Homo sapiens: one gene and its partners. The protein of the gene in region 1 purifies or fractionates together with the protein of each later gene. This does not show direct contact. Each region holds a gene or a part of one and is shown in the gene's direction. Other genes may lie near its edges.

What was found.
Region 2: the proteins of VRK1 (region 1) and TOP2B purify together in Homo sapiens (affinity purification with mass spectrometry; one large-scale study listed by BioGRID and IntAct). This does not show direct contact.
Region 3: the proteins of VRK1 (region 1) and GUSB purify together in Homo sapiens (affinity purification with mass spectrometry; one large-scale study listed by BioGRID and IntAct). This does not show direct contact.
Region 4: the proteins of VRK1 (region 1) and HMGA2 purify together in Homo sapiens (affinity purification with mass spectrometry, with the first as the bait; one large-scale study listed by BioGRID). This does not show direct contact.
Region 5: the proteins of VRK1 (region 1) and DMP1 purify together in Homo sapiens (affinity purification with mass spectrometry, with the first as the bait; one large-scale study listed by BioGRID). This does not show direct contact.
Region 6: the proteins of VRK1 (region 1) and PHIP purify together in Homo sapiens (affinity purification with mass spectrometry; one large-scale study listed by BioGRID and IntAct). This does not show direct contact.
Region 7: the proteins of VRK1 (region 1) and RAI1 purify together in Homo sapiens (affinity purification with mass spectrometry; one large-scale study listed by BioGRID and IntAct). This does not show direct contact.

The regions. Positions count from the first base shown.
Region 1 is NC_000014.9:96,852,882-96,856,381, forward strand, and holds part of VRK1 (serine/threonine-protein kinase VRK1), read left to right. Parts: coding exon 1-58; intron 59-192; coding exon 193-285; intron 286-2,342; coding exon 2,343-2,475; intron 2,476-3,248; coding exon 3,249-3,369; intron 3,370-3,500. UniProt on the Homo sapiens protein: Serine/threonine kinase involved in the regulation of key cellular processes including the cell cycle, nuclear condensation, transcription regulation, and DNA damage response.
Region 2 is NC_000003.12:25,662,108-25,666,387, reverse strand, and holds the start of TOP2B (DNA topoisomerase 2-beta), read left to right. Parts: upstream 1-1,480; 5' UTR 1,481-2,090; coding exon 2,091-2,159; intron 2,160-4,280. UniProt on the Homo sapiens protein: Key decatenating enzyme that alters DNA topology by binding to two double-stranded DNA molecules, generating a double-stranded break in one of the strands, passing the intact strand through the broken strand, and religating the broken strand.
Region 3 is NC_000007.14:65,962,699-65,965,213, reverse strand, and holds part of GUSB (beta-glucuronidase isoform 1 precursor), read left to right. Parts: intron 1-755; coding exon 756-891; intron 892-2,515. UniProt on the Homo sapiens protein: Plays an important role in the degradation of dermatan and keratan sulfates.
Region 4 is NC_000012.12:65,823,325-65,827,282, forward strand, and holds the start of HMGA2 (high mobility group protein HMGI-C), read left to right. Parts: upstream 1-1,158; 5' UTR 1,159-1,946; coding exon 1,947-2,057; intron 2,058-3,518; exon of another isoform or gene 3,519-3,650; intron 3,651-3,958.
Region 5 is NC_000004.12:87,648,964-87,653,079, forward strand, and holds the start of DMP1 (dentin matrix acidic phosphoprotein 1 isoform 1 precursor), read left to right. Parts: upstream 1-1,316; 5' UTR 1,317-1,421; intron 1,422-4,116. UniProt on the Homo sapiens protein: May have a dual function during osteoblast differentiation. In the nucleus of undifferentiated osteoblasts, unphosphorylated form acts as a transcriptional component for activation of osteoblast-specific genes like osteocalcin.
Region 6 is NC_000006.12:79,075,455-79,079,753, reverse strand, and holds the start of PHIP (PH-interacting protein), read left to right. Parts: upstream 1-1,499; 5' UTR 1,500-1,685; coding exon 1,686-1,725; intron 1,726-1,840; coding exon 1,841-1,899; intron 1,900-2,024; coding exon 2,025-2,054; intron 2,055-2,246; coding exon 2,247-2,306; intron 2,307-2,487; exon of another isoform or gene 2,488-4,299.
Region 7 is NC_000017.11:17,799,958-17,803,457, forward strand, and holds part of RAI1 (retinoic acid-induced protein 1), read left to right. Parts: intron 1-3,500. UniProt on the Homo sapiens protein: Transcriptional regulator of the circadian clock components: CLOCK, BMAL1, BMAL2, PER1/3, CRY1/2, NR1D1/2 and RORA/C. Positively regulates the transcriptional activity of CLOCK a core component of the circadian clock.

The DNA.
Region 1 (3,500 bases):
TGAAGCAAATGCCAAAAGGTTTTCTCGGAAAACTGTCTTGCAGCTAAGCTTAAGAATTGTATGTGAGCTATGTTCTTCTTGTTTTTAAAAAATTGTTTTGAGTACAGTAAAGGCTAGTTTATGTTGAAGCTTGGTCCTCTGCTGGCTGGTGTTAGGTACTGCATTAACTTATTCTGTATGATACTTTCATAGCTGGATATTCTGGAATATATTCACGAGCATGAGTATGTGCATGGAGATATCAAGGCCTCAAATCTTCTTCTGAACTACAAGAATCCTGACCAGGTAGTTTTATAACTTTAATTTCTACTATTTAAAGCGTGTTGTTTGAAAATAAATATGGTTGCTTTGAACTTTTGAACCTGTGTAGAAGTTTTACTTTTTGAAGTAGATATGGTAATAATATTTCTTCTTGACACTTTGATCTAGTTAACATTCTACATTTTTGATGTGATTTGTTGGCACTTTATCAAGTTGGCTATTTTGCCCTAAATAATATTCAGAAGAAGTGCTTGTGATACAAAATGAATTTCAAATAGCTATTTGGGGGTGGAAGCTTAAAATTATATAGTACACCAATGAATTATGTTTGCCTGTCTGCTTTGTCACTTTTTTTATTCCTTTGTTCAAGAAATCCATCAAATGTAAGTGTTCTATTACTTGGAAAATTTGGTCTTTAACATGTTGATTATTCAAATCAATTGGTTTACAGAAATATCTTAGCTGTCTAAATTTGTATACCCTTAGTGTTTGGAATTCAAATGTGCATTTTTTTTTTAGCTTATTACATTCCCTTTGTAATTTTTACTTTCTAAGGAAAGGAGAAAAGCTAATGTTATTATACCTTTATTTAGGTCAGTTTAGTTGAAGTAGAGGGATCTATACAATTTTCCTGTATAACTGTTTCTGTGATTTCGGTGAAAGTAAGGTTTAGTTGACATTCATACTTAATGTATGTTCTCACTTCTTACTTGATCTTACATAAAAAGGAAGATTTAAACATTTTAAATGTGTTTGGGTACTTTGATTATTGTAATTATTTGTCAGTACTCTGTACTTCATTCTTTCTCTCAAATGTACCTTTAACTACCTTTGCTTAGTTTTTCCTTTTTCCTTTGGCTCTCTTTTCTTTTTCTGTCGTCTCGTATTTGCTTCCCTTCCTCCAATGTCAGTTATGGTGGATAGAAGGGAATCTATATAAGTATAAAAGAAGAAAGTTACTATACTATTAAGATAGTGTGCTAATGGAGAAATCTTAAAAAGGCAATCATCAAATTCATCTCTGCTCTTTCTAGCCATTTCTTTTTAGATATTTCTAGGCTAAGAACAAAGAAAACGCAGCTAACAACCTGAACAATAAGGGTTCCATTAATTGAAATAGTCTGGACTTGTACAGTATAATAAAATACAACTTATATCACTTTGTAGGTGACTAAAACATGCTGCCTTTGTTTATATGGAAATATTTTTGCAGCTCTGTTATCCTTCAGACATATGCTTTGGATGGGATTATTTTTCCAGTGTTAGATGTATGTGCTAGATCTAGCCACATATTTTTACTTCAGTTTCCTCTTGTGCCCAGATGCATGCATTTGTGACATTTACTCAGAATTAGAGATGTAATGTGTGGCTATGGAATGGAAGAAAGCCAAGTTTATTAGCTTTGTATGCTAATCAGACCCACATGTATATGCCCACGAATAAGTATGTATATAATATTAAAATTTACTTTTAATCATGAAGACTTGGCTTTAGAATATAGTATTTAGATATAGATAAAAGCCTGATCTAACAGTTCTTTAGATCATTATTATGATGTATGAAATGTTTTTATAAAGTAAATTGAAATTTGATTATTTTACAAGTGAAGAAACAGAGGAATAGAAGGTAACTAACATATCATGTGTCAGCATCATTAGCAGTCTTCTACTGGGTGTGCTTTTCTGTGTGGAAAGTAGCAGTTGTATTGCAACAAGTATTGACGGTTTGCTCTGTGCTCAATTTTAGAGTCTGTAAGATAAAGTATAAAATGTATAATTTTCGTTCAAATTGAGACAAGATTAATTACAAGTATAACATATACTTATCTTAAAAAAGTATATAAAGTCAAGTGATTACACTGTAGCTATGTGGTCATTTAACATTTTTATTAAAAATAAAAAGCCTTTCAGAATTAAGTATTTGCTGTTGTTTGCATTTTGGATCTAAATTGTTTGGAGTGTTATGGAATGACCTTGTAGGTGAACCCACCTTCAGATGCCAGTATTTTGTTTCTGTGCTTTAAAGGGTTATATGTGCAGTGATTTTGACTTTAGTTTGTCTTGGTGCTTGGAAATTTATAGGTGTACTTGGTAGATTATGGCCTTGCTTATCGGTACTGCCCAGAAGGAGTTCATAAAGAATACAAAGAAGACCCCAAAAGATGTCACGATGGCACTATTGAATTCACGAGCATCGATGCACACAATGGCGTGGGTATGTCAGTAGTACTGGAGTGAGAAATAGACTGCTAATGTTTTCACCCAGATTCCTACATAGTTCTTAATTATGCATAAGTAAATGAATAGATAAATAAAAATTGAAAAGGCACAGTGGCATGAGGAAAGAAGGCAGAGGTGAGACTCCTACAATTGTATTCCAGGACCATCTGTGTTCTTCTGTCCTGCCTTTTCCTCGCAGCCTTCAAAGATAACCAAGAAGGTGGTAGTGGTTCATTCAGCTGCCATGAGGATTTCTTTTTGGTTTTATTTAGTTTAATTGGAATGTTTGTTTTTGTGTTTTTTCTCAAGTTTCTTATGTATCTACAACTTTGTAACAGCTAACTTTTATTTTGTTACCTGTTAAGTTAGTTTATTTCTTCAGCAGTCATTTCTTCTGTGCTCAAAGCTGTGGAAGAACTCAAATACCCAGTTCTCTGGGCCTCTTAATAGCATATAAAAATTTTAAGAATATCTTCAAGTTTTCCAAAGGAAAACTAGTTTTATTTCTAGACTAACAGTCTCCGCTTGAAACCCTGAAATTTACCAATTTGGGTTTTAAAGTAGATTATTAGCTAGAAGTTAATTGGGAGGTAAGCTATTTCTTTTATACTGTCCAATGTTCAGTACCTAGGTGAAATGCAGTCAAAATTTTATGATGAAAAACAGACTGTGGAGTTGACTTGTTTTATGTTATTACTTTATATATACTTTAAATTATACATTAAAAATTATTTCAGTCTACCTAATGTTCTTCTCTTGCATTTGTAGCCCCATCAAGACGTGGTGATTTGGAAATACTTGGTTATTGCATGATCCAATGGCTTACTGGCCATCTTCCTTGGGAGGATAATTTGAAAGATCCTAAATATGTTAGAGATTCCAAAATTAGGTAAAGGAAAACTTAAGTTATTTCTAGCAAAATCATGATAAGCCAAATGTTTTTAGTCACAATTTCTTGATAGGAACTATAGTTTCAACTGATACTGATATAGAAATAAGAAAGTACTTGTTAAACAGTAA
Region 2 (4,280 bases), on another chromosome or scaffold:
AAGTTAAATAACAAGGCTATGGATACTTGGTCAGGTTCAGAAAAGTTTGCACCCCAAGTTCAAGGTAAAGAAAGGCTTCACTGTTCTGAAGTCCCTAGTATGGCAAAGTTACATGGCCATCAGAGAGCTAATTAAAAAAACTATGTTTAAATTATTTCCATGTTTCAGAGTTCTCCACCTCTAGACTCAGAATGCAGTTTAAAGATGTGACCTGAGACATTTTTGTTTTCCCTTGAGAGGAAATGCACAGTTGGAAGTTCACAAAAACACCTCTTCAAAAAACAGTAATACTGTTTTCATCTTTATAAAAAGCTTTCATCACAACTCTTTGGTGGCACTTCATGCCTTCAAGTACTCATTTTGGTGATCGTTGGCTCCCTTTTAGTCTGTCTCACAAGCCAGGTTATAAATGGTTTGAAATCAGGGGCCTTGTTTTTACTTTGAACCCATCGCAGAGCCTGGCACAGCGTGGCAGAGTGTGCGCCCAATAAATACTTGAGTGGAATTACACTGAAAAACAGGAAGAAGTAAAGCCATCTTCCATCTGCCAAAGACTGTGATGTTGCTGTATTGGTAATTTTCATTCTTAGAAAGCTTTAATGTGAATGAAATTATTCCTTACTGTGCATTTGAAAATTCCACTGAAAACAGTTTTAAAAATTAAGCATGCCCTCTTAGAGGCAGGGGGCACAGTTCTGGACAGATGAGAAAAGTGACAGTGACATCTCTGCATTGTTCAGAGAAGAAAGGTCAACAAAGAGTAGAAATAGAACACTCAACCCACCCTGCATTCTTTCCCTAGAACATTCTCTGTGTGTCCCTTATCATTTAAGCTTTTCATATGTAGTTTTCTTGAAACTGACCATATGCTCTTTTGGGGTGAGGGGAGGAGACGGAAGAAGGAGATGGAGAAGGTCTGAGATGATTTTTTTCGACAGCAGCGTCCACTTAGGCCCTTGGGGAGGCCGGGTCACGGGGCCTCCTTGCACCAGTGGTCTACAACGTCTTGCCTGCGGTTTACAACCGCTCTTTTAAAATAATTTCCCTTTGGGACGGCCCCCGGCTTCTTCCTGCCACCCCCATCCCCACCCCGCCCCCATCCTCATCCTTAGAGGCCCCAGGCAAACGCTTCGGATTCCCGGTTAGGTCTCAGAGTAAACAGCACGCTTGGAGGATTACAATCGACCCGAGGCCAATTCGACCCTTTCCCTTTGCCGCCCTCAATTGACCCTTGAAGCAGCCCCTGCTCTCCCTTCAAATGGAAAACCCACAGACACACACACAAACAAAAACCCCAAGTCTTCCTTTCGGTTGCTACCCGCAATGACGTTTCCCCCCTCGGGTCCCGCCCCTCCAGGGGGCTTGGAATTTTGGGATTGGCCGAGAGGCTGTGGCGACAAGGCCCGGATTGGACAGCATGGCGCTGACTGACAGCGGGGGCGGCCGCCGCGCCCTCCCTCTCTCCCCGGTGTGCAAATGTGTGTGTGCGGTGTTATGCCGGACAAGAGGGAGGTGACCGTGGCGGCGGCGGCGGCGGCTCTGTTTATTGTCCCTCTCGGTGTGTGTGTGTGAGGAAATCGGGGCTGCAGCGAGGCTAAGGCTGCCTTTGAAGCAGCGGCGGCGACCGGGACGACTACTCTGGCGACTCGAGTGGCTGGCCTTCGCGGAGTGTGAGAAGGACAAGGCACCTCTGCGTCCTCGCCACGTCCGAGCGCCTCGGGCTCCCCGGCCGCCCTCGCGGCTCGCACGCCCGGGCTTCAGCCCGGCCTGCAGCGGCGCCCGCGGGCGGGCGAGAAGGCAACGCCGCCGCTCGGCCGCCGCCGGTCGCTCCCTGCTTTCTCCTCAGCCGCCGCGCTAGGCCCGGGCGACGCGGACGCCGCGCCTCGAGTTTGAGGGCAGCCGGCGGCGCGGCCTCCTCAGCGGGCTCGGCTGGACGTCCGCTCCGGATCTTCGCGATGGGGCGCGGGGGTCGGCGCGGCTAGGAGTGCGGCGAGTGGAGCGGTGGGTGCGGAGCGGCGGGGCCCAGCGGCCCGCAGGGAGGCGGGAGCGGCGGCTGCGGCCTCAGGGCCTGTGAGCTGGAGGCACTCGCCATGGCCAAGTCGGGTGGCTGCGGCGCGGGAGCCGGCGTGGGCGGCGGCAACGGGGCACTGACCTGGGTGGTAAGTGGCTGGTCCCCGGGACGGGCGGCTGCATTGTTCCGGGCCCGCGGCGGGGGCGGAATTCCGAACGGGCGGGGGAGGGGAAAGGGAGGGAAATCCCGTCCCCCGAACGGGCGCTCCATAGGGGCCTGTGCTTGCAGAATCCTCCAGCCCGCTCCCCGCGCCTTTTCTTTCTTTCTTTCTCTGTACGTCTCTGGAAGTCCTGACTGCCAGAGCGTAATGTGTACTTGAAACTTTGGGGGGACAAAACCGCGAACGTAACATACAGCCCCCGCTTCCTCTCTTTTCTTTTTAACCAGACTCTTCCGGGGCAGCCGAACCTGAAATGGTGGGGATGGCGATAATGCAAGTGTGTCTGTGTGGGGCAGCATTTTCTCCAAATGTAGTTCAAGAAAACCCTGGGAAAAGGGGTGTGTGTGTGTGTGTATTCTAAATGCAGCTCTTTCTGGGGCTTTAATCTCAAAGAAGAATGCATTGGGATTTCTACAGCAACTTGCACTTCAATTTGGAAAGCCTCATTCAATGCGCTCAATTGAGAGCGCATTGGGGATGACTTTCACAGCAGTTAATACTGTAGGTCGTCCCTCTGTCAGGGTGAGATTATTAAAAGAAGTGCTTGTCTACGTCAGCATCGCAGGTGTAACGGGGTGAGGGCTGAATGGATGTCCTGGAGAGGTGACTGAAGTGCTTAGTCCTGAAGTTAAAGGATTTCGACGCTCAGTTCTTGCTGGGAAGTAGAAGTAACTGCAGCGGAAGGAGGAAGGGAGACTGGATTCCCACGACAGATCGATAATTCGCCGGCATTTCACTTGCTCAGCGTAGAGTTCAGACCAGGGTCATTTCCTATACAGAAAACCTAGGTATTTCGGAGAAAAGTAAAAAGTGTTACATTTTTCTGGACTTTTGACGGTCTGTTCCCCCGTCCCTGTTTTAAATACCTCAAGGGAGCTTTCATATAGGCATTTTTGTTACTTAGTTCGTTTTCTCTTTGTTTGGGTGAGGTTTGGGTGAGTTGAATAGCAATTTGTGCTATATTGACAACTGCTTCTTATAAAAAGGGTGCTACTGACAGCAGCAAAACATTTTAATCACTTATGTTTGCGTGCCAGGGTACATTGCAAAATAACTTGCCATGCTCTTATTGTTGAAATTCTTTGAATGTTGTATATTACTCCGATTATGTAGAATGAAAGTATGAAGGGACTAGGGCCAGGAGAGAAAATGTCAGATACTAAGTTAGTGGTCCATGTGGACTTGCAGTAGAGGGTATGTGAGAGGAAGAAGGAGGAGATGGACACATACATGCAAAATAATGACTTTCAGAATTAATGGCTTTTACCCCTGTCACTAAAATCAGACATCGGAAAATTGACTTAGACAGCCAAATGGTATTGTAAGTTCTCATTCACTATTTGGAAGTGTTGAGGCCTGATCGGTGTTTCCTCTGAAGACCTCTGGTTCTATAATGGTAAACATTTTGCTCCGTAGTGGATTGTTGGCTTTAACATTTGATAGCAGTACTTTAATTAACTGTTATATAATTTTGTAGATAATTAAATGACAATTTATTTCTTTCAAGCTCCATAGGAAACTCATTGCTAATTTAGCAAAACTTGGAGCATCTCATTCAAGATAGAAAAATCCATTTGAAACTGAAATTGACTTATTGATTAAAGGAATTTTCATTATAAAGCAGATTATGGAAAATATGGGAAATGCAGTAAAATAAAGAGAAGTGAAGATCACTTAGTGTTTTATTTATAGAGTATATCTTATGGAATTAGAAGTTTATTAAAAAGATAATCACTCCTGTAAGTCTTCTTTAAGAGTTGATGCTTACTCTAAGGTTATATGAGCATCTTTATGTCCATAATATACATCATTGATCATATAGACTGGTTTGATTTTATGGGAGGCAATATAGTGAGGTAGTTATGGGCTTTGACGTCAGGCTGATGTAGGTTCAGATACTGTCTCTCCAACACATTTAGTTGGACTTTTCCCAAGGAACCTAACCTTTCTAAGCCTGTTTTTTTATCTGTCAAATAAGGTTGCATTGAGAATGAAATGAGATAACGTGTGTAGCACAGTGCTGGGCTTAATGATGTTTGTTATTATTGG
Region 3 (2,515 bases), on another chromosome or scaffold:
GACTAGTCTTGAAATCCTGGGCTGAAGTGATCCTCCTGTCTCGACCTCCAAAAGTGCTGGCATTACAGACCTGAGGTACCATGCCCAGCCTGGTTTGGTTGAGTTTAATTTAATTTAATTTTTATATATATATATATATTTATTAGAGACAGGGTCTCACTGTGTCACCCAAACTGGAGTGCAGTGGTGTGAACACAGCTCACTGTCGCTTTGATCTCTGGGGCTCAAGCAGTCCTCCAACCTCAGCCTCCCAAGTAGCTGGGACCACAGATGTGTGCCACTAGGCTTGGCTAATTTTTGTACTTTTTGTAGAGATGGGGTCTTGCTATGTTGCCCAGGCTGGTCTTGAACACCTGGGCTCAAGCAGTCCTCCCACCTCAGCCTCCCAAATTGCTGGGATGACAGACATGAGCCACTGCACCTGACTGAAAGACATATTTTTGCCTGTAGTGTAGTTTAGCCTTAAGACTGTACCAGCAGATAGAGGTGGAAAAGTAATGTGAAACGAATGTCAAATTACGTTTATAAATAAAGCAGCTGCTCATTAAGGTTGTTTTTTTTTTTAAACCTCCTTTTTTATTCTGGGTTACATCATTCCCTGGCTGTCTTTACCCCAGCATCAGTGAGTCCTGCAGTCACTATAGCCCCCTGTGAAGACAGATATTTTGGTCACCATCAAGTGGATCTTTATTTTTATCTAACATTTACAATTCTGCCAGTTCTGACTCTTACATTCTCTTTGCCTTGAATCCTAGGATCCACCTCTGATGTTCACTGAAGAGTACCAGAAAAGTCTGCTAGAGCAGTACCATCTGGGTCTGGATCAAAAACGCAGAAAATACGTGGTTGGAGAGCTCATTTGGAATTTTGCCGATTTCATGACTGAACAGTGTAAGTGGCAGTTTGGCTCATGGGATAACGTACCCGTCCTCATTTTTTCAGGTTGCCTTTCCAATTCTGGCCATTTCAATTGTAAGAATATTGGAAACAAAGTTGGGGAAGCTGGTTTAATCCATGTAGGTTGCGTTGAGAATTTTCTAGGAAAAGTAAGTTGTGTTTAGGAAGTAGGAAAGCAATCAGGCCCCCGCCTCCCAAATACGGTCAAAAAGCAAACAGGAGAGTCAGCTATAGTGAATCGGAAATGGCTGGCTTGCCTTTTCCTTGTCTATTTTGTAGCCAAGGAGGAACGAAAAACGGGACCTCATCATGGATTTACTTTTGGGATACACTCATTATTCCATAGAAGGGTACAAAGCCTGAGAAACTTAAGGTATTTCAGTCTGTTGTATATTACTTGCGAAAAGCAGGCTTATCAAATACAGGTGAGTTTCAACGCATCTTGAATTTGGCAGCATTTACAAGTCTTCAGGCCAGGTGTAGTGGCTCACGCCTGTAATCCCAGCACTTTGGGAGGTCAGGGTGGGAGGATCGCTTGAGGCCAGGAGTTCAAGACCAGCCTGTTCAGCATAGCAAGACCCCATCTCTACAAAAAATAAACAGATTAGCTAGGCGTGGTGGTGTGTGCCTGTAGTCTCAGCTGCTTGGGAGGCTGAGGCAGGCGGATAACCTGAGCACAGGAGTTGGAGGCTGCAGTGAACTATGATTGCACCACTGCACAAGAGCCTGGACAACAGAGTGAGACTTGTCTTTAAAACACAAGATTGGTCTTCAAAGAGAATAACATCTGCGGTGTCTTGTGAGGATGGATGAGGGGCTGCCAAGTTCGCAATGAATGTGTCCCATTTCTTCTTAGTTTATGGACTTACCATAAACTGAAGATAGCAGTTTGGTGGGTTGGAGAAGCATGTGGTAATGGTGGGAATTATAATACATTACTTACAGGGAAAGACAGGCCTTTGAAAGGTAAAGCGTAAGAGTGAGAATGGAATACGGATGAATGAATGAACAAGATGAGGTGAGAAGGAAGAGGTAAAGGGAAAAGGAGAACAGGAAGCTGTCCTCTGCGTGGCACCTGTGATAAATGGTTTCTGGGGACATCCCTGATGGCAGTTTTGTGGAGAGGTGCGAGGCTTTATGCGGTAAGAAATGAGCTGCAGGCTGGGCGCAGTGGCTCAAGCCTGTGATCCCAGCACTTTGGGAGGCCAAGGTGGACAGATCACCTGAGGTCAGGAGTTTGAGACCAGCATGGCCAACATGGAGAAACCCCATCTCTACTAAAAATACAAAATTAGCCGGGTGTGGTAGCGCATGCCTGTAATGCCAGCCACTTGGGAGACTGAGGCATGAGAATCTGTTGAACCTGGGAGATGGAGGTTGCAATGAGCTAAGATCACAGCACTGTACTCCAGCTTGAGCAATAGAGTGAGACTCTTTTTTTTTTTTGAGACGGAGTTTTGCTCGTTTCCCAGGCTGGAGTGCAGTGGCGCTATCTCAGCCTACTGCAACCTCCACCTCCCAGGTTCAAGCAATTCTCCTGCCTCAGCCTCCCGATTAACTGGGATTGCAGGCATGCGCCACCACACCCGGCTAATTTTGTATTTTTAGTAGAGACGGG
Region 4 (3,958 bases), on another chromosome or scaffold:
AGTTTTGTGTTATTCAAGGATGAAAAGAGGTACATTTAAAAATGTACTCCACCTTTTAAAAACGGACTGTGGCCATTATGGTGTTCACATAACTCAGAACAGCCCAGGCCATAAAATTAGGACTTGGCAGAAAGAGAGTTCTCAGGCAGAAGGTTAAATCGAGGTAAACTGAAGGGAGAGTTGGGCAGTGAGTGCAATTGTGGTGTTAGGAATCTACAAGGTGCCCTTTACCCTGGGAACATCGGATTCCCGGGGAGGGGGATGGGGAGGGAACTTCGGTTGCCTCTAGTCTTTCCTGGAGAAAAAAGTTCAATGAAGAAGCTGGGGCGCTCTGTGTGTGCACATTGTTTGCATGTGTCTGCGAATGTGCATGTCTATCTGCGTGCCTGTGTGTATGTGTGTGTGTGTAAATGCGGGTGTTTACCAGCGCATGAATGCCCCCGTGTCCACGTGTATCTGCGTGCATGTGCTTACACGCGTGTTCGTGTGTATCTGCATGCATGTCTCCGTGTATGTGCGCGCTCGCCCGCCCGCAGGCTCTGTGGTGAGGGCATTCCGAGGCGGAGTACGGCTGTCAGGGGACCTCTCCCACTCCACTGCAGTCCCTTCCCACTCACAGTGAACCGGTGCGCTGCCTGAGGTGCAGCCTAGACGCTTCCTGCAAAGTGTTGGCTCGGCACGGTAGAGGCGCAGGTAAAGGCCAAGCCCCGAAACGTGGCTCCGGGACAGTCACGTTCCCGCGCCTTCCCAGGACAACTGCCCAGGGGTGACCTCGAGAGGCGGGTGGAGCTAGGCCCACGGCGAGCCAGCCCGGGATCCCCGGCCTGTCCCTTTAACCCCGCCGCCGGGCGGGAGCACGTGAGCGGGGCTCCGGGTGGCACCCGGGCGCCGCCGCCGCCGAGGCAGTTGTATTTCGAACGCTGCCTCTGGCTAGCAGCCAGGCGCCTTGGCTCGGCGGTCCGCCTGGCCTCCCTCCTCCTCATACTTTTCTTCCTGCGCAACCCCCTCCCCTTTATCCGCCCACGATTAGAGGTGGGCACTCCCCCCACCACCACCCCCTCCCCAAGCGCAAGCGCGTGCACGCACACACACCACACACACTCACACTCACACACACTCACACACACTCATCCCACTTGAATCTTGGGGCAGGAACTCAGAAAACTTCCAGCCCGGGCAGCGCGCGCTTGGTGCAAGACTCAGGAGCTAGCAGCCCGTCCCCCTCCGACTCTCCGGTGCCGCCGCTGCCTGCTCCCGCCACCCTAGGAGGCGCGGTGCCACCCACTACTCTGTCCTCTGCCTGTGCTCCGTGCCCGACCCTATCCCGGCGGAGTCTCCCCATCCTCCTTTGCTTTCCGACTGCCCAAGGCACTTTCAATCTCAATCTCTTCTCTCTCTCTCTCTCTCTCTCTCTCTCTCTCTCTCTCTCTCTCTCTCTCTCTCTCGCAGGGTGGGGGGAAGAGGAGGAGGAATTCTTTCCCCGCCTAACATTTCAAGGGACACAATTCACTCCAAGTCTCTTCCCTTTCCAAGCCGCTTCCGAAGTGCTCCCGGTGCCCGCAACTCCTGATCCCAACCCGCGAGAGGAGCCTCTGCGACCTCAAAGCCTCTCTTCCTTCTCCCTCGCTTCCCTCCTCCTCTTGCTACCTCCACCTCCACCGCCACCTCCACCTCCGGCACCCACCCACCGCCGCCGCCGCCACCGGCAGCGCCTCCTCCTCTCCTCCTCCTCCTCCCCTCTTCTCTTTTTGGCAGCCGCTGGACGTCCGGTGTTGATGGTGGCAGCGGCGGCAGCCTAAGCAACAGCAGCCCTCGCAGCCCGCCAGCTCGCGCTCGCCCCGCCGGCGTCCCCAGCCCTATCACCTCATCTCCCGAAAGGTGCTGGGCAGCTCCGGGGCGGTCGAGGCGAAGCGGCTGCAGCGGCGGTAGCGGCGGCGGGAGGCAGGATGAGCGCACGCGGTGAGGGCGCGGGGCAGCCGTCCACTTCAGCCCAGGGACAACCTGCCGCCCCAGCGCCTCAGAAGAGAGGACGCGGCCGCCCCAGGAAGCAGCAGCAAGTCAGTACGAGGGCGCGGTGGGGGCACCAGCCCACCCCGTCCCCACTGCCGGGGCCCAGACACGCGCGGGGCGGCCGGAGTGCGGGAGCCCAGTCGCCGCGGCCGTCGCACACTGCCCGCCGGCCGGCCGGGGGGAGCGGCGCAGACCCCACGAGTGCGCCGCGCGGCCCCGGGGCGCCAGCAACCCTCCGGGCGGGGAGGTGGGGAGCCGCGGCGGGCGGCCCGGGGAAGGCGGGAGGTGGGGTCGGGCGAAGCGCGTCCTCGGACTTTCGCTATTGTGCACGGCCCCGAGTGGCGCGGTGTCGCCCAGTGACTGGAAGCGACCGGGATCCGACAAACCCGGGCTCGCAGGCGCTTTCCGAGTTGCTTTTGCAACTGCCCGGGAGGAAGGAGGTGCCGGGGACCCGGGCGCTTCGGCCGATCTGGGCTGAAGGGGCTAGAGTCTTGGGGGCCGGAGGCTCTTTCTCCCGCCTCCCGGGGCTGCTCGCGGGTCGGGGGCTGGCGCGCCGCAGCCGCCCCCTTGGCGCCCTCCTCCAAGCTCTCGGTGGCCCAAGACTCGCGCCCTCCCGACAAAGAACGCATGGAGACCCGGCTGCCTGGTCCTTTTTGGGCTCTTTAAATATGCGGCGGCCGCCGGAGGGAGCCCGGGGCAGGGGCTACGGGGAGCCTGGTTCCCCGCAGGACGGGGTTAACTCGCCCAGCTAAGGGCGCGTTGAAAGGAGTGTCCAAGAGAGTGCAGGGTAGCCAGGGTCGCTTCCTTGTCAGGGGCCCGGTCCCCCTTTTGCCCCTGGATCTCGCGCCTCAGAGCTGCAGCCATTAAATGCTCTTCTCCAAGGCCAGTGGCCGGGGGTTGAGTAGGGGACGATCGAGGGGCGCCCGGGACCCTGCGGAGTGGAGGGTTTTGTCTGCGGATGCAACCAATTAAGCGTGCAGCCGGCGCTTGCAGAGCTGCGCTCAGCGCGCAGGGCTGGGGGTTTTGTTCGCTGTAATTTCCAAGCCGCGGCGGGCAGAGTTGGAGCGGGATATGTCTATTGAGAACATTTAAACTCCACTTTCTCGGGCTTTAAAACTTGCTCTCTGCTTAGTCTTAAATCGCTTCCTTCATGGCAAACACGCCGATTAGAAAATAATCCTAGAGTCCCAAAGTTGTCCGAGAGCAAGGTGGGGAAACTGAACAATGTTTGCTTGCCAGTGCATTTTAGAAAAATTGAGAGTTGTACCTTTTTGAAATCATCAAAGGAAACAAGCCGATCTAGAGGCCCCTGAGTTTTCCCGCTCTGCCCAAGCGACACTTTACACCGCATTTGAATCCTGTTTTACACCTCCCAGGAAGTCTCTGCCCTCCCCCACTTGTTTCCCACCCGCCACCCAGTTCTAACTCACTAATTGCCCCCCCTCCAAAAAAAAAAAAAAAATCCAAAAGAAATTACAATGGGGTCTGGAGGTGATTGGATACTTTACCTTTGAGTTAAGGCAGAGTTCACAAAGAAAGAAAAATTTGTCTCCGATGTGTTTGCTCTCGATGTGCCCACTGGTGCTAGTGGTCCCACAGAAGCTTGCAGGGAACCTTCCCGAATTCTCTAAATGGGATGCGAATTTTCATTGAGGACGTTCATGGGTTTTAAGTTAATTAGTCTCACTTAATCACCGAATCTGAATGAAATGTGAATAGATGATTCACTGGATAAATATTTGGGATCTGGAATATTAATCATCGCATTCTCTTAACCACTTGAGTATTTACTACTTGGCATAGGAGCCATTTAAAGTTTTGCTAAACCAAGTGATTGCTTCCATTTCTCATTCCCAGACACTCCATTCCTCCTCGCTTTTACCTCCTTTTAGTTTTCTCCACTCCACCCCCATAAGAGTTTTCTCAAAAGAAAGTTTTGAAGAAAATA
Region 5 (4,116 bases), on another chromosome or scaffold:
ATTTATAGCTTCCCCATATGGACTTTGGCTTTCTAATCAACCCTAAATGAAAATAGACATCTCTTTCCTCATTGTCTGCACCACCCTCCCCCGCATATTATAGTTCACACTAAATATGTTGATAATCCATATATCTGACATTAGTTGCCTGAATAAATTGGGCACTCTAATTTTCTAGATCCATGTTAGGAGCATCAGCTCAATTTTTTTTTTAACAATTAAAGCATTTTTTTAAAAGTTACAGTGAGTTATGCAGATACTGTAATCAAGTTAATAGTTTGGCTAATTTTCAAGCCAATCCACTCAGTCATTCAAAGAGTACTGAGTGATTATTAAGAACTGTTCTAGGTATCCAGGCACTGATTATAGATCAGTAGACAAGCAAACATCCCTACTCTTAAGGAAATTAAGGTCCAGCAGCTGATATTCTCTAAATTCTTGTTCAGTGGCCATCCTGCCGTCACTTGAACACGCTCCTGGGAAATTGCCAAACCCATTTCCAGCTCCCTACAACTTTTAGTACGCTTCCTCGAAAATGTTTTGGTAAATATCATTTTATCCATTTCATTACATTTTCAGTGGTGGCACAGAGTCCCTTCAAGATTAGTTTCCTTGGATGCTACCCAGCTAGTATTCCCCTTAATCCAATTCTGATTTCAAAGAATCATTAAAATGTGGCAAACAGGGAATGATTAAGTGTTAAGTGTTAGATCTAAATTTCTTGAATAACACAATAGCTACTTAAGGGGGGTACTTTAGTGGACGCTTTATTAGATTAGTAGGAGTTTGGGAACTTTGTGTGTATATGGGGGTGGGGAGATGAGAGGAAAAGGAGGTGAGTAGTAGAGGTTGTTAAAAGAGGAAAAAGGAAGAAATAAAAGCCCATATTCTCAAAACCAACAATTTAAGGAACTCTAGTATTTTAGTAGCTTTCTCCATGTACAACCTGGAAATGTACATTAACAGGAAACTTTCTACCCACCCCTGCCTCCGCCTTTCCCATCCTTGGGTCTGCTGGGATCTGTCGGTGGGTAGAAGACATTGTCATTGTTCATAAGACTGCCTGAATGTGAATGACATATATTTAGAAATCAAAATAAAGTTTTGGGAAGATCTTCAATTTAATGGAAACTAGTCTAGTCATTTGGGAACCACAAGAGCTTTTTAGGGAAAATGTGCCTCTGCCAGCTGGAGGAAGTGTGGGTGTACCGGGGTCCCGGTGACACCTTGTGATGTCAGTCACCCCCAGCCTGAGGTTGATTGGCTATGAAGAGCTGCAGCAGAGTTTAAATTCCTGCACCATCAGAGAAGTGTCCAGAATATCAACACAAGAGTGGCTTCATTGGGCATAGATTTCCTCTTTGAGAACATCAACCTGATTTTTGAGACTTTTTGAAAAAATTCTTTGTGAACTACGGAGGGTAAGTCATTTTCATCATTTAATTTTTTAAAATGACTTTTGCTGGTTGTTTGGAAAATATTAAATATGTATACATGTTTGAGGCATTATACCATGTAGAGAGAGATGGGAGAGCTGCGCTTTGGGTAAAAACAGTTCCTATTTTTGTGCCTGTTGTTTATGCCACAGTAAATAATGATATGAAAATGACATGTTAAGACAATACAGCCAGGTGTTTTTCTTGGTAATGCTTTAATTAGATCTCTGCATGACACTTCTAAAAGGGATAGTTTATAGAACAGGAGGCAGATGGAAGGTCATTTTGAAATTTAGTTTTAATTAGCAAAACGTATAAAACTTTTACAGTGTGTTTCATGAATAAGGGAATGTTTGCAACCTACAAGATTGTGAAAAAAAAGCTAAACTTATTGAATGGCAGGACTTTAAAAAGAATTTTTTTTAAATTAAAATGTTATTCATCTAGAGAGCATCTAGTAACATTTATTATGAACTGCATAAGTAACTAAAAGATGATTAAACTACTGAAATAACTGAGGGTGTGATAATTATGTTTTTTGTATTCATGTTAGCATGATGCCTTGAATACAGTTAGAATTCAATAAATGTTGAATATAATTATATTTTAAAATATTGCATTTTAAAACATATATTTTAAAATGTCCATATGTATTTTTATTTACTGTATTTAGTGCACTTCTTCATCTGTGTGACGTTTAGAAGAGTCCATGTGTTTTAGCAACTTGTCTTCCTTAAGAGCAGTAACTTGTGGTTAACCATACTTTCTGTTTAACTGAGGCTTGACTATCTTATTTTAACTTTGTTGTTTAAAAATGCGAACAAACTATTTTCTAAAGGGTATTAGTCCACTTACCTACCTGAAAATGGTGATGTAAAACAATGTGCCTCAGATGCTTAGAGGCCTTCCAAATCTATATTTAATTTTGGGGGCACCTCAGAGGTATATTCCTGTGATTAAAAGCATATAATATTGGATTCATCGTAATTGACCTGAAGACACATACAATAGGAAGAATTGGATTTTTTTTTGGTTTGTTTGTTTCTCTGGATTCCTGGTAGAGTTCATATCCTGGCCAAGTTTGATTCTATTTTCAAAGAGTAATAAGAAAACAAATTCTAGCAGGTTCTAGTTAGTTGGATTCTGGTTAATTTTATTATTATAAAACCAACTTATTTTATTATTATTGTTTATTATTATTAAAGTTTCCTGCTAATGTACATTTACAGGTTGTACATGGAGAAAGCTACCAAAATATTAGAGTTTCTTAAATTGTTGGTTTTGAGAATATGGGCTAGAAAAGTGCCTAACACATTGCATGTTCATAAATATTTACTGACTGCTAATGAATGAATGTATTGTTCAGTTGTGTTCTTGAAGATAACAATACTAAGACAAATAAAGCAAATTAATATGATGAATTGTTTTCCAAAAGAAAAAAGAGTCTATGACTTTTCAAACCTTTATTTTCTTCTTTTGGCCTATTTCCTTCATTTTGGTTTACATAAAAGAAGATATATATTTTACAAATGTATCTTAACCTTGAGAAAATGCTAGAACAAATTTCCTTACTTAAGAGCCGAAAGAAGTTTTGGCTACACACCTGAAATCTTGACTTTAGTTTCCCTCTCCACATTCTAAACATTTGGCTCTTTTCAACTCTATGAAAACAATTCACAGGGGCAGAAATTCTCTAATACACCGCCTTCCAAATGGATGGAACTCAAGTTGTTTATTTCCTTTTGTTACGTCATCTCACTGTAGAATGACAGCATGTAGAATGTAGAAATAACATTAACCAATCACTGAAGAAGAACTCAAAGTTCTGGACTTTTAATTGCAGGCTTGTAGCTGTGGTTCACATTTATTATTCAGAATATGGCTACTGCCTATCTGCTTCTACTCTTTTTTGAATAGTAGCCAAAATGTTTATAAAAGTTTGGAGCTCTTGTTTGGAAATGCACTTCACAAAATTATAATTATTTTTATCAGAAATACCAAATGCAAACCTAACAAGGGGTTTAAGATCTGATTTTCTTTAATGCTTACAGTTGGACTATATTTTTTGGGTGGCAACATCAGCTCTCTCAGAACTCTAGAGTGTCTTTTATTTTAGTTTACTAGACTTGCATCTGGGAAATTATTGCTTTAGGTCAGGATGCTAACGAGTATTTCTAGAATCCTGAGCAAGTTAGGGCATCTTTCTTGTGTTTTAGAATCTTCCATCCCTAAGAAACTTGAGCACTTGGGGCATGCACTTCTTTGTGAGAAAACACAACGTTCATTGGTTTAGAATAAATGCACAATGGCATCCCCAGTTTTCTAATTATTTAGATTAGAGAAGCTAAAGAAAATACAAGAGAATTCAATAGTCATTGACCTTCTGTCAAGGCTCTAACATTTGCTAGCTTTCAGAGAATCATGAAATTATAACCCTATTCAAATTTCACTTTGAAAATTAAAATGATGAGGTAACTTTCATTTGATCTGTGAAACTGAAAGCATTGAAAGGGTTATTTTGAGAATATCATATTTGAGAAAATTTTGCTTTCCTGAAGAAATAAACCTAACACATTTTTTAAAAAGTTTTGATTGTGGTATCTAAAGAGAAGTAACATCTATTAAATTAAGCTTGATTTTGGTATAGTTAAGCATTTTCATATGTTTTTCTCTGTTGATA
Region 6 (4,299 bases), on another chromosome or scaffold:
GTTAACAAAAGAACGACTATCCAAATTCCCTTTAAAATGCAATCCTTAAAAAATATTGAACTCTCAAGTCTTTTTGGAAAGTGCTTAAATCATCTGGAGATAAATATCATTTGGTGTCCTTGTTTTCTAACAAATGGCTTTTTCTATTGTTTCCATTAATTTCACCCATATTCGTTTTTTTAAAAACAAGGCCCTTATCCTCATCAGCAAAACACAGATGTATGATTTAGCATATAAAATCGGTAATTACATACTAATTTACGAAAGATTTTTTTTTCTCCTTTTCGTCAGTTTTCAAGAAGTCTTCCCGTGATTAACTGTAAACAGGAATGGTTTACATCTCAAATTAGAAGCCATTAATTAGCATGACGAAGTCAACTGCAAGATACACAGATTATTTAAATTATTTAATCACTATTCACCTTGGCTAAACTGTAGTATACTCTTTCAATATCCTTAGGCAGGTTATCGATCTGTCACTAAATTACCTCCAGATCAGTTAGACATGAATATTAGCGTCCTTTCCTTTCCCTCAGGTTTACATTCTCCCTTCTCGTAAACACTTAAAAAAGCTTTAAGGTTCTTTAATTCCAAATACCTAATTAGCCATCACTAGCCTTTTTGTAATAAGGAAAAAGAGTATCTGAAGTACAAATCAAGAGTTCGCTTTGCCCGTTTAACAATAAAAAACATTTAAAAAACGTACGCCAAAGGCAATGGCAGTAATAAAAGAAATATGCAGAGGTGGCTTCAGCAAATAACGGGTTTGCAAAACGCAAGTGCTTAACAAAAAGCAGCCCAAACCTCTATTGCAATATACAGCACTCCAATAAATTACACAACACTTGCATAGGCTGCAGAAATAACGCAGGACAAGACTTACACAGATGCCAATCCGCAGCATTTATACACATGCACATGGCAAGAGACAGAAACCAAACACTATCATTCAACTCGGGAAGGGTAGCGCGATCCCGAGCTTGCCCAGCGTGAGAGTGCTCTCTGCGTGTGTGTCTGTGTACGCGCGTGAGTGAGACCCATCCTTGGGGCATTTCCCCTCTCTGGGCAGTTTTGCTTCATTTGTTTCATATTTCTGCTACATAGAAACTAACTTCCATCTCAGCTCCAGCCAGCGCCGCTGAATAGAGCCTGTGCTGCGGCTCCGTGTGCGTCAGATCCCTCCGCGGAACCGTCCCCGGCCCCCTCCCTGCCACTATCGGCCTCCACAGAGAAAGCGCCTTCCAGCCAACCGGCGGCTTGGGCTCCGACATCTTCTCCGACTGGAAATAAATAAATAAATCGCACGCCCTGCGGGGAGGAGCGGGTGGGGGTCTCACTGTGCCGCGTGCGGAGCGCTGGGGACGAGGGGTCGGAGGCACTCCTTTTTTAGCGCCGGGGGGCGGGGGCGCGGGCCAGAGCCGGGGCCGAGCCCTGGGCCGCGAAGGCGGCGGACTCCTTTCTGCGGCGGAGGGATCCGCGGCGGAGGCGGCCACGGCCGTAGTCGCTGCCTGAGAGTTGTTGTTTCCTCCTCCTCCTCCTCCGCCTCCGCCGCCGTTGCTTGAATGGTGGAGCCGAAGCTCGGCTCGTGAACACACACTGACAGCTATAGGGCAGGCGGCGGCACCGTCCCCGCTTCCCCTCGGCGGCGGGGTGTCCCGTCGGCGGCCCTGAAGTGACCCATAAACATGTCTTGTGAGAGGAAAGGCCTCTCGGAGCTGCGATCGGGTAAGTCGGGGGGCTGCCGGGGCCGCTGGCACCGGGCGATTCCGCCCGCGGTCCCCCGCCCCCCGCCGCCCGACCGCTCAGCCTGTGTGTCTCCCCGTCCCTCTCTCCCGCGCAGAGCTCTACTTCCTCATCGCCCGGTTCCTGGAAGATGGACCCTGTCAGCAGGCGGCTCAGGTACGGCGGCGCGCGGCGCGGGCCGGGCCGGCGCTCGCCGCTCGCGGGCGTGGGGGAGGGAGGCGGCGGCGGCGGGGCCGCGGCCCGGGGCGCGGGGCTCAGCTCTCCCCGCTTTGTTGTTGCAGGTGCTGATCCGCGAGGTGGCCGAGAAGGAGGTAAGGGCGGCGGCGGCCCGGCGCGTCCCGCCGCCGCGCGGCCGCCTCTGGGCCGCTGCGCCGCCGCTGCCGCCGCCGGCAGGGCGCGGGGCGCGGGGCTCGGGGTCCCCGCCGGGGCGCGGGGCGGGCGGGGGAGGGGAGCGGGCGGGTAGGGGCCGGGGGCCGGGCTCACGGGGTGTCCTCTCCCCGCAGCTGCTGCCCCGGCGCACCGACTGGACCGGGAAGGAGCATCCCAGGACCTACCAGAATCTGGTGAGACATTCACGTCGCAGAGCAAAGAAACTTTTCCCTGAGTCGAATAAAAATTGAATTTCCCGCAATTTTTTACAGAGACAAAAACTTGGCCCTAGAACGTGAAAGCTCCAAAGGCCATGGGGAGGGTTGGGAGGCCGGCGCGGGGTCTGCGGGGGCCAGTGGCCGGGGGTACTCGTACTTCGGGGCCGCAGGGGCTGCGGACAATTTATTTGTGATATTTTGTTAATGTGCTAGAAATAAAGATACGTCATGAGTGTTGTGCAGTGCAAGGCCGGAGGAGGAGGGGCCGGCGCGCGCGTCCGTGCGGGCGCGGGGGCGCGCGAGAGTCGGCGGCGGCGGGAGCGGCGCGAAGAGGGAGAGCGCGCTCGCTCGTTCGCTTGCTCGCTCTGCACGCGCGGCCGGCTCGGCTTTCTCCTGCCCTACACAATAGCTGGTGACTAACTGCTCCGAAGTGGCATTAGCATTTCACAAGCAGGCTATCCAGCCGCTGCGGTACCGTGGCAAGACATTATTTTTTCCCCCTCTGTCGTTTATTTTGTTTTCCTTAAATTCAGTCCTGGGTTTTTTGTTGGAAGGATTCTGATGTGTGATGATAGTTGGTCAGTGCTTCGTCTTGCATTTACTAAAACACATCTTTGCAGAAGTGTAAAGCCTGTAATTCCCTAAAACCAGAAGTTTAGTAGGCTTTTTTTAATTCTTATGGTATGCCTCTCGTTTAATTAAAAATTATTATTGGAGTACACTGAAGAGTTTTGATTTTTGTCCACATATTTACTGTGGGATGGAACTTGGCCTATGAAAGTTGTGTTTATATTGGGACATATTTTGTTTAATAGCTTAAAAACCTTAATTTTGTGGGTTGTCAAAATGAGTATTTTAGGAATCTTTAAAAATTGCTTTTCAGAAGTGGATTTATCACTTCAGTATTGTGATTGGAAGTTACTTTAAAGGAGCTATATTTTCTGTAACACTTTCTCCTAAACTGATACAGGTTCGTTGTGTGAATATGTGTGTGGGGCAGTTAAAGCAGTCGCACCGGACCCACCAAGCCTTTGAAATTTATGTAGTGTGTTGATTTTATGAGGCTTTTGTAACTGTTTTGAGATAGTTATGATTACTAATGTTACTTCATCAGAACTTCTCTAATGACTAGGAAGTTTCAGCGAGCTTAGAATGAGTGTCTTTTGTGAGGTGAAAGCAGGACATGATTATAATGGCGCTTTTTTTGGTATGTAGTGTATTTCCTAACTTTTGTGTATAAATCTCTTGTGGTTTAATATAAGATGTTGATAACCGCTCAAGGCTGTTGAAATAAGCAAGGGTACTGAGGTTTAATACATCTAATGGAGATTTAACAGTGTATTAGTGTATTCATTTTCACACTGAACGTGTGTTAATTTTCAAGGAGTGATTTGGGTTACTTTCATTCAATTCTTGGCCAAAGTGAATGGAGCTGGAAGTAAACTCCAAGATTTACTAATTTGAAATTAATTTTTAGGTTTACAAATACTTGATAGAAGTCTTCAGTGAATTTACATGTCTTCCTTGATATTTGAAAAAATTATCGCAAAGATTATAATACTCCATTTTTAAGATGGGGCAGGTTTTACAAAACTCGTCTTTGCATCTGCTTTTACATCTGTGCATCTCTTAAAAACCCACAAACCTTAAGTCACTGAGGAATGCTGCATTTTCTTAATCTTTTGGTAATGTTACATTTTTTAAATGAAGCAGCTTAATGTTATCTGGCTAAATTATGGTAATGGCTAATCCTCGTAGGAATATCATTTTGTTTTTTTGTTTTTTTTTTCAGTAAAAATGAGCTATCAATTTTGATTTTGAGTTAATTTAATTTTTGGGGGGAGGGTGGGGGGAGGAATTATTAGTAAAGTGAATTTCTATCCCTAGTCTGCATCGCAGATTTAAGATACAGTAAGCATTCTTTCTATCTATGTATTATGCTCAAAATTCACCTATTTTGAATGGAAGT
Region 7 (3,500 bases), on another chromosome or scaffold:
TCCCACTGCCCATGGGGATGGCTGGAGACCTTCTCCACGCCCAGACGCCCTGCCCACCTCACTCCACCCTCCACCTCAGAGGAAGGCTGGCCCCGACAGGACTCCTGCAGGTTCCTGGTGCCGCGGGCCTTGCTTACCCAGCAGATGGTGGCCTTGGGCCTCTTCCCTCTCCCCTTCCCAGTTAGTGATTTTTTGCCTCTCTCCTGCTTTCTGTCTCTCTCTGTCTCTCTCTCTCTCTCTCTCTCTCTCTCTCTCTCTCTCTCTCTCTCTCATTACTGGCTCCTTCCCAGCGCCTTGAAACAGGTTCAAGTCTCTCCCGTCATCAAAAAATAATAACCCTCAGATCACCAGCCCCAGCTGGCTGCCACCTCCCCTGCTTCACAGCCCCATTCCTGAAAGCCTTGTCCCCACGGCATCCTCGGTCCCGCAGCCTCACCAGGGGCTCCCCGACACTCACGTCCCACCAGGCTGAGATCAGGTCGTCTCCACATCCCCTGCAGCCAGCACTGGCCGGCCGAAGGGAGGAGGGGTCAGCCCCGAGCACCGACCACCCCATCCTGTCCCTGGCCCATGGGTGTCTTAACCGCCCATGCACACACAAGGTCCTGCTGGACTGAGGAGACAGTGTGTGTTGGAGAGGCGCTAGCTTCCCTACACCACGCGGGGGCTGGAACTTGCCAGCCCAGCCCATGCCTGTCTGCTGTGCCATGCTCCAGAAATGGCCTGACAGCCTGCGCAACTAGGGCTGCCCCGGGAAGGTCGGAACCAGGAACACCCTGCCAGACAGATGGGACATCCTGGGAGAATGGGCAGAGTCTGGGGCTTCCCAGGGTCACTTTTGGCTCACCACCCCTTCCTGCCTCAGTGGCTTGGGGGCGCCATGCTCCTTGGAGTGAGACCCTGGTTCAAATCCCAGCTCTGCCGAGGGCTGGTTCCATAGCTCCAGGCGAGTCACGCATGCTCTGAGAACTCCACAATGTCAAACCCCGTTAGCAGGATTGTGGGGTTCTGTGGATCATGTGGGACCTGCCTGGCATGTGGAAGGGGCTTGGGGTGCAGCTGTGTCCCTGGCCCCAGCACTGCCACACCCCTCGGTACCTTGACCTCACTTTTGCGCTCTGGAGGGCAGAACCTCTGAGCCAGCTCTCAGGGATACCTTTTTTCCTCGATGGCCTTTTCTGGGAACTGCCCTCGCCTGCTATCTCTGAGCCCTGCCTGCCCTTCCCCCAAAGCCATCATAGACCCCTACCTCCTATCCAGATGGAGCCTGGCCATGGAATGCTTGGGGTGAGAGGGACCCATAGCGGGCTCCGGGCATTGTTAGGGGGCTAGGTGGTGTCTGCAGAGGCCCCACCTGTGGCAGGGTTTACATGCCGCCACCCCTGCCCTCCTCTTGGGTAGCTGGGGTCAGAAGGGCCTGAGGCCTCACTCTCTCTGCATCTTAGTTTCTTCACATCTAAAATGCTATTCATATGCCTGCCTGAGGGTGGTTGGGGCCTCCGTGCAGTAAGTGGAGAGAAGCCTTCAGCCAGAGGACCCCCATATGCTTAAACATCCAGACACCAAGGGCCACTCACAGACAGCAGCCGGCTTGTGTTTCGTCATCCCTTTTGGGTCAGGAACTGGGGACGCTGGACTCCAGATCTCCAGGAGGCCATCCCAGACTAGGCGGGAAGGAGGCCTCAGCCCTGAGCTGAAAACCTGAAATTCTAGAATAAACCCCAGGCCCCACTCCCAGCATGGGCAGCGGGGAGGGGAGTGTTCTGACATTTCTCAGCTGCTGTGGTTGGGATGGTGCGCCCACCCTGAGCATGTGGGGTCCTGTGGGCCCCTACTCCAGCCTGGAGGCAGCTGCAGGGGTCAGAGACCAGCCTGGAGCCCTCGGGCAGGTTACTCAGCCTCAGCTCTCATTGGTAACCCAGGTAAAATAACAGTAATCCCATCATAAGGTTGCTGTGGGCATGAGGCTTCCAGCCATGCCTGGCACATAGGAAGCTATTGTCGTTTGTTTCACTGGCTTCGCACTTGGGCAGAGGCCGCCGCCCTCTCTGCTGCCTTCTCTACCTCACCCCCCGCCCCCAGCACGGTGGCACTGTGGCTCTGGCGCCTGGTGACTTCTCCCTCCCCGGCCTCAGGTTTGCTTCACTCTTCCAAGGGCCTTCTTGGTGTGACTGTCCTGTCCTGGCCACGTCCACTCCAAGCAGCTGGTCCAGGTGTGGGGCAGCCCCCAAGCTCAGCAGAGGACAGTTTTGAGACTTAGAGGAGGACGGCATCAGATTTACATGAAGTCAGCCATCTCAAGGGATTACCACGTCACCGCCTCCTCTCACAGGTCTGAGAGCTGGTCCCCTGGAGGGTGCAGGTCTCATCCTAGGTAGAACAGTCCCAGCCTAGCTTCAAAGTGCTCCTGCTGCCAGAAAGGGTAGAAAACCATGCTGAATGCCTTCACTGTTGCCTGGAATGGGAGCCTCAGTTTCACCATCTGTAAAGTGAGATTAATGAAAGGGACCCACAGAGGGCTGTTAGAGCCAGTAGGCGGCCAGGCGCGGTGGCTCACGCCTGTAATCCCAGCACTTTGGGAGGCTGAGGTGGGCGGATCACGAGGTCAGGAGATCGAGACCATCCTGGCTAACACGGAGAAACCCCGTCTCTACTAAAAATACAAAAAATTAGCCTGGCGTGGTGGCGGGCACCTGTAGTCCCAGCTACTGGGGAGGCTGAGGCAGGAGAATGGCGTGAACCCGGGAGGCGGAGCTTGCAGTGAGCCAAGATTGTGCCACTGCTCTCTAGCCTGGGCAACAGAGCAAGACTCCATCTCAAAAGCAAAAGAAAAAAGAGCCAGTAGGCCAGGCGCTATGTCTTACACCTGTAATCCCAGCACTTTGGGAGGCCTAGGCAGGCAGATCACCTGAGGTCGGGAGTTCGAGACCAGCCTGGCCGACACAGTGAAACTCCGTCTCTACTAAAAATACAAAAATTAGCTGGGCATGGCAGCACATGCCTGTAATCCCAGCTACTCGGGAGGCTAAGGCAGGAGAATCACTTGAACACAGGAGGCAGCGGTTGCCGTGAGCGGAGATCACACCATTGCACTCCAGCCCCGGGGGGACAGAGTGAAATTCTGTCTCAAAAAAAAAAAAAAAAAAAAAAAGCAAGCCAGTGGGCAAGGACACACACCACGCCCAGCACACCAGAAGCATGCAGCAGATGCTGGCTGGTAGCCACAGCCATGGTAGTAACTGGCATCACTGGCCCAAGGGGGTCTCCCTACCCAATGTACCAGCCCAGAGGGTGCTAAATGACCCATGTTTGTGGGCATGTGTACCCCAGTGCTGAACCTCCTTCTGGTAGATTTTCAAGCACCATTTTGGAGAAGGGAGGCAGGGACCACAGGGGGCCAGCCAGCCTGTACAGGTTTTTTGTGTTTTTTTTGTTTGTTTGTTTGTTTGTTTTTTGAGGCAGGGTCTCACTCTTGCCCAGGCTGGAGTACAGGCAGTGGC